Homo sapiens: one gene and its partner. The protein of the gene in region 1 purifies or fractionates together with the protein of each later gene. This does not show direct contact. Each region holds a gene or a part of one and is shown in the gene's direction. Other genes may lie near its edges.

Region 1 (3,500 bases):
GGCCCAGCGGTCTCTGTTGCAGCCCCTCACCGAAAGCCACAGACACGGGAAACCGAGTGGGCGTGCCAAGCGCCAATCAAACCGCACTGTGTTCGCTGAAATACGAGTTTCATGTGATTTTCACGTGTCACAAAATATTCATCTTTTTTTGGTTTTTTAAATTAATTTTTTTTTTAAATTTACAAAACTAGGCTGCAGGCTGGACTTCGCCTTCGATCCATAATCTGCCAACTGCTTTATTTTAGTTGCCCCCATCTTTGTGGGTTCAAGCCCCAAAGTAGAGGGTCACTGAGGGGCTGCGGCAAGAAGAAATTTGTCAGATCTCACTTGTGAGTCCATGGGGTGGCACCTCGGGTGTTGGGTTCCCCCATAGCCATGTGGCCTTGGGGCGTGGGGAACTGGCCCCATTTTATCTGATTCTAGGGAGCCCCGTCGCTGACATCCATGCTGTCACATCATCTTGGGGGTGTAAAGATGGTGGCTGGCTACGGGATGGGCTGCTGTTGTACCCACAATTACACAAGAACACAGAGGTTTAACTCGAGACCCTCAGTCCCTGAGCCCCTTTGGTGTCACAGCCCCAAGACCCCTCCACCTGCAGAAGCCCTGGGGGACCTGGCCCGGGCCAGTGTGAACAGGACACCCTGGTCCTGCCATCTATCCAGACAGCCCTGTCCTGGGCACCCACCAGAATTACTGGGGTGGTCTCTCAGCTCCCCTGGGTTCCCCAGGAAGTACTTTCTGGTCTGGGGCAAGTGACCTGCCAAGCCGGGTCCCACCACTGCTAGCTTCAGGTCAGCCGCCGGGAGGTGGCACTGGAAGCTGAATCCCCGGAGGCTCTGGCCGTGTGGCACTGCTCACCCTCTCTGTGGCCCGCAGCTATCCTGGAGAAGCTGGAGGAGTTCCTCAGCGTCCGCACCCTCTACTTCATCGCCTATCTCGCCTTCGGCCTGGGGACCGGGCTTGCCACCCTCTCCAGGAACCTCTACGTGGTCCTGTCGCTCTGCATAACCTACGGGATTTTATTTTCCACCCTGTGCACCTTGCCTTACTCGCTGCTCTGCGATTACTATCAGAGTAAGAAGGTAAGTGCTCTCCCTTGTCTTGCTTCGGGTCTGCTTCTTGGAGAAACCCCACCTGAGAACTGTCCCCCAGGACCAGCTGCACAATCTGCAGAGCCCGGTGCAAAATGTCAAGACAGCGACCACAGAGCATGAAACCAAGGGGGGCCCTTCTGAGTCTGGGGCGTGCCCCCTGCCTGTAATCCCCTCATTGCTTCATTAGCAGAAGCCTCCAGCCCACCCAGGCTCTGGGTCAGGCTCTGTCCTTCCCAGGGATGTGGGGAATGGGAGGCTGCCCCTTCCTACTCCATTGTCAGGCCACCGGGTCTCCTGTTGATGCCTGTCCCAGCCATTCAGGGTGGGGCTTATGGGGAGGCAGTGAAGCTCGGAAAACTCAGCAATCCAGATCGATAACATGTTAATGCAGTATTTTTAAAAATCAGAATTCTTGCCAAAAATCCATGGAGAACAAAAACATCTTTCTTTCTTTCTTTTTTTTTTTTTTTGAGATGGAGTCTTGCTCTGATGCCTGTGCTGGAGTGTAGTGGTGCGATCTCGGCTCACTGCAACCTCCGCCTCCCGGGTTCAAGTGGTCCTCCTGCCTCAGCCTCCCGAGTAACTGGGACTACAGGCACGCACCACCATGCCCAGCTAATTTTTTGTATTTTTAGTAGAGACGGGGTTTCACCATGTTGGTCAGGCTGGTCTCAATCTCTTGACCTCATGATCCGCCCGCCTCAGCCTCCCAAAGTGCTGGGATTACAGGCGTGAGCCACCGCACCCAGCCCAAAATTTTAAATAAAGAGAGGATCAGTTCACCATGTACTAGGGGTTCTGATAGCCAGCTCAGCTCCTGATCCTTTTTCTGTGGGAACTTCAGTTCTGTCCTTGAATCCTGACTAGACGTTTCTTGCCCTCTGGTCTCAGATTTCTCTTGGCTTTTATTCCTTGATCCACCTGCCGGTTTTATCACCTCCCCTTGTTCCTCATGGCTTCCCATCAACCGTGGGTATTAGGTGACAGTGTAATTTATTAGATGTTGGTTTTGCCCAAATACTGGGCATGGCTTAATAACAACGAAACCATTTCATTATTTGGACAGGCCTGAGTACCTTATCAAGCAGATTAAAAGGATATGGTACCCGTCCTTTAGAAAAGGACAGCTGAAATCTCGTTACGGATTATGGATTTAGCATAAAGAAAAATAATCAGGCATAAATTAAGAGTAAGAGAGGGGTCCGGGCGTGGTGGCTCACACCTGTAGTCCCAGGTACTTAGGAGGCTGAGGTGGGTGGATCACGAGGTCAGGAGATTGAGACCATCCTGGCTAACACAGTGAAACCCCATCTCTACTAAAAATACAAAAGATTAGCTGGGCATGGTGGCGCGTGCCTCTAGTCCCAGCTACTCGGGAGGCTGAGGCAGGAGAATCGCTTGAATCTGGGAGGCGGAGGTTGCAGTGAGCCGAGATGGCGAGATGGTGCCACCGCACTCCAGCCTGGGCGACAGAGCAAGACTCCGTTTCAAAAAAAAAAAAAAAAAGAGTAAGAGGGACAATGAATAGAAATTTCACTTCACAGCCGGGTGCGGTGGCTCACGCCTGTAATCTCAGCACTTTGGGAGGCTGAGGCGGGCGGATTACCTGAGGTCAGGAGTTCAAGACCAGCCTGGCCAACATGGTGAAACCCCATCTCTACTAAAAATACAAAAATTAGCCAGGCGTGGTGGCGGACGCCTATAGTCCCAGCTACACGGGAGGCTGAGGCAGGAGAATGGCGTGAATCTGGGAGGCGGAGCTTGCAGTGAGCCAAGATCGCACCACTGCACTCCAGCCTGGGCGACAGAGCGAGACTCCGTCTCAAAAAAAAAGATAGTAATACTTTGAAAAAAAAAAAAAAAGGATCAGTAACAGTGCTGAGCCACCTCATATTGGAGTCTGAGGCAAAAGGAAAAATGGCATTTAAAAGGCCAAACGCAGTAGCTCACGCCCGTAATCCCAGCACTTTGGGAGGCCGAGGCAGATGGATCACTTGAGGTCAAGAGTTCAAGATCAGCCTGGCCAACATGACGAAACCATGTCTACTAAAATACAAAAATTAGCCAGGCATGGTGGCCCGTGCCCATAATTCCAGCTACTTGGGAGGCTGAAGCAGGAGAATGGCTTGAACCTGGGAGGCGGAGGTTGCACTGAGCCAAGATTGCACCACTGCACTCCAGCCTGGGTGACAGTGGCTATGTAAATAAATAAATAGGCCGGGTGCGGTGGCTCACGCCTGTAATCCCAGCACTTTGGGAGGCCAAGGAGGGTGGATCACGAGGTCAGGAGATCGAGACCATCCTGGCTAACACAGTGAAGCCCCTTCTCTACTAAAAATACAAAAAATTAGCCGGGCGTGGTGGCGGGCGCCTGTAGTCCCAGCTACTCTGGAGGCTGAGGCA
Region 2 (3,500 bases), on another chromosome or scaffold:
CAACTCCTAGAATTACTTCTTTAAAACGAACTTTTGACAGTGTCACTTTCCATTCTAAAAATACCTTAACGATTACCTTTTGTCAGGCCCATGTGGCTCTCAATTAAACTGGTCCTTTACTCCTGTCCAGCTACATTTCCCATCACTCTGTGCCTCAGACATCATTCATATTTCTCCACAGAGGATGCTGTTTCTCTACCCTATGCCTTTGTACCAGCTTTTTCTGAAGTACGTTTCCCCTTCCCCATTTGACTGGCTTACTTGTACTCATTCTTTATATATTTTTTACGATTTTTTTTGTATGGAGTCTCACTCTGTTGCCCAGGCTGGAGTGCAGTGGCGCAATCTTGGCTCATTGAAACGTCTGCCTCGTGGGTTCAAGAGATTCTCCTGCCTCAGCCTCCCGAGAACTGGGACTACAGGTGCCTGCCACCATGCCCAGCTAATTTTTGTATTTTTAGTAGAGATGAGTTTCATCATGTTGGCCAGGCTGGTCTCAAATTCCTGACCTCAAGTGATCCACCCGCTTTGGCATCCCAAAGTGCTGGGATTACAGGTGTAAGCCACCGCACCAGCCTCTTACTCATTTTTTAAATCGCATCTCAGGCAGTAGCTCCTCCAGCCCCTTTTCTCTAAACTTTGGCTTGTGTTAGGTGTCCTTCCTTGGTGCTTCTAAAAGGCACTTTGCTGATATCTGTAACCACACTTAGCATATTACTGAATAATTATCTAAGTCCCTCTCTACTTCTAAACTGTGAAATCCTTGAGGGCAGAGACTGTCTTATTCGGCTTTGTATTCCCGTTACCCAGCATAGGGTCTAGCAGTTGCTCAATATATGTTGTTTGAATGAATAAATAAATGAGGTATAAGGGATGCATTTTTGATTAGTGTAACCCTTTATATTAGGGAAGATGTTTTCTCTAAGAGGCAGCTTGCAATGACACTGAGCCTGGGGACTGGGAAAATTATATTTGGTAAGGAAAGAAAAGTAACTTAATCTCCCTGGACCTCAGTTTTCCCATTGATGAGATGATTATGTTCAACAGCATGATTTTGTTCATCCTTCCAAGTTTAAAATATTGTCTGCATCCTGGACATATTTGGCACTGTATGGAGATATTTTGGTTGCTGTAATGAAGGAGAGTGCTACTGGTATCTGGTGGAAGTCAGAGAAGCTGCTAAACATTCTATAGTCCATAGAACCAACCCCACAAGAGAATTACCTGGTGCCAGATGGGAAACTCTTGTCTTCTTCACTTATTCTGCCTTTTATTTTAAATTACTGACAGATACTATACTATATGACTATTGTTTTTATTGCCTCTCTCCGACAAGAAGTTAAACTTTATGTGCAAAGGAAGACGTTTTATTTGTTTAGTAATTATGTGTTGAGTGAGTGAATAAATGACCTAATGGTAAGATATAACAGTGCTTCGAAATTGTTAGTTAAAAGTTATGACAGATCATTTACCCTTCTTTCATTTCTTATTTACAGGACTGGAGAATTGGGAAACTTGATAGCCCCTTGTAATGCCAATTGTAACTGTTCGCGATCATATTATTATCCTGTCTGTGGAGATGGAGTCCAATATTTTTCTCCCTGCTTTGCAGGCTGTTCAAACCCAGTTGCACACAGGAAGCCAAAGGTAGCTTATGTCTCCTACTTTTCCCTTAATGAGGCAATATGTTTGTGGATTATCTTGACTTCTCTAATGGGGTTATGCAATGCCTATTCTTGCCTTCCTGCTCCATTGCCTCCGTTAAGCAGCCCATGATGTCTCCAGCTGAAATAGATTCTTTTTCCTTCATGCCTCTTGCAGTTATTGTTGAAAAATCAATTTGGAAGTTACAAACATTTTAGTAACATCACTTTGTTGCAGTTATGAAATATCTTTTACCTTTTCAAATTGTTTTATAGTCATCCCTCACAATACATGGGGGATGGGTTCCCGGACCCCTGCATATACCCAAATATGCCATACTTAAGTCCTGCCGATGGCCTTGAAGAACTCGCTTTAAGTCAGCACCTCAGTATATATGGGTTTTGCATCCTGCGAATACTGTATTTTTGATCCATGTTTAGCTGAAAAAAAAAATCCGCATGTAAGTGGAGCAGTGCAGTTCAAACCTGTGTTGTTCAAGGGTCAATTTTATTTTTCCCTAACTATTTAAGATCTTTGAAGGCAAGAGAGTTTTCCTATTTTCACTAGGTACAGTTTATATAATAGAAACTTAGTATTTGTTTTATTTGATATACCATGAATACACTTAAAATATTCAAATCAATTTATTTTTAAATACAAATTCATATTTAATTCTGGATCTGAATACTAATCAGTGTGCCTAGATGTTATTTCTTTTCTGTACAGTTAAATAGTTTAAAAGAACTCAGTACAATTTTACTGTACTATATCTTAGAAACTAAATATTTCATCTTAGCTAAACTTAAGAACCTTGGAAATAAATAATATTCAGATTATGAGTAGTACGCAGTATAGTATGCATTGGTAGATAATGTGATAACTTTAAAAGGATCTAAGGGAAATATATACTGTGGTATAAAAGAAAACAATGAATAAGATGTGTAAGAGTTATATGACAATTTTGAATATTTGAATTTTTTTCTGTATATATGACCAATAAATGCTATTGACTAACTTTGATTAGAAGCAGATTATGACAAGGAGTTATTAGGAAGGGTTTTAGTCACATAACTAAATATATATAGACACAAATACCATCCTGCACAAGGGAACAACACAGAAAATCTAATACCCAGAGCATACTTAAAATAGTTTTTGTTATTTCGATATGGTTAATTTAATATTTATATTTTTCACCAAATGCTAAGATAATTACTATCTTACACAGCAAGTTGTCTTCTAGAATTTTTTAGGAAGAGCAAATGATTTTGACTTGCAAATTTTCTATTTGTCCTGACTTTTTTATGTCCAATCAGTCCATGAAATAATCAATTGATCCACAATATTTTTCTTATGAAATATTTCAGATAGGCAATATACATTTATAATACTTTTAATAAGCACCCATATACATTTGTTCACAGCAATACAGTTTTAATCTTATATTTCACACCAGTGACCCAAACTACAAAATCTGACCTTGACTAACTGCTATATTGCAGGCAAATGAGAGTGGTAAAGTTTCATTAGGATAGAAAATACTGTTCTCAGTTTCTCTCCTTAAAATTTTTAAAGGCTGAATTACCTCATTATTTGATATATCTGATTGCTGAATATGTAATAGTCAATTTTGGAGGTGTCATCTGCATATTTGGTTTTCCTGAATTGGTACCAGTGGTCTTAGAATGGCTTTAGCACCAAAAAAAAAAAAAAAAAAAAAAAAGTTTCTGGCCTTTGGAACAATGAAAGCACTGCTTCTCTTTGATTTCTCTGGCTCTGCTCTGATTCGTTGAGGCCTTAATGTCTAAAAAAGATTTATAGTAAGGATAAAGGATATGGAAGGATGGAGTTGAGAT

The links. The genes of interacting proteins can lie anywhere in the genome.
Region 2: the proteins of SLC45A1 (region 1) and SLCO4C1 purify together in Homo sapiens (affinity purification with mass spectrometry; one large-scale study listed by BioGRID and IntAct). This does not show direct contact.

Annotation. Positions count from the first base shown.
Region 1 is NC_000001.11:8,338,614-8,342,113, forward strand, and holds part of SLC45A1 (proton-associated sugar transporter A), read left to right. Parts: intron 1-879; coding exon 880-1,085; intron 1,086-3,500. UniProt on the Homo sapiens protein: Proton-associated glucose transporter in the brain.
Region 2 is NC_000005.10:102,247,785-102,251,284, reverse strand, and holds part of SLCO4C1 (solute carrier organic anion transporter family member 4C1), read left to right. Parts: intron 1-1,496; coding exon 1,497-1,647; intron 1,648-3,500. UniProt on the Homo sapiens protein: Mediates the transport of organic anions such as steroids (estrone 3-sulfate, chenodeoxycholate, glycocholate) and thyroid hormones (3,3',5-triiodo-L-thyronine (T3), L-thyroxine (T4)), in the kidney.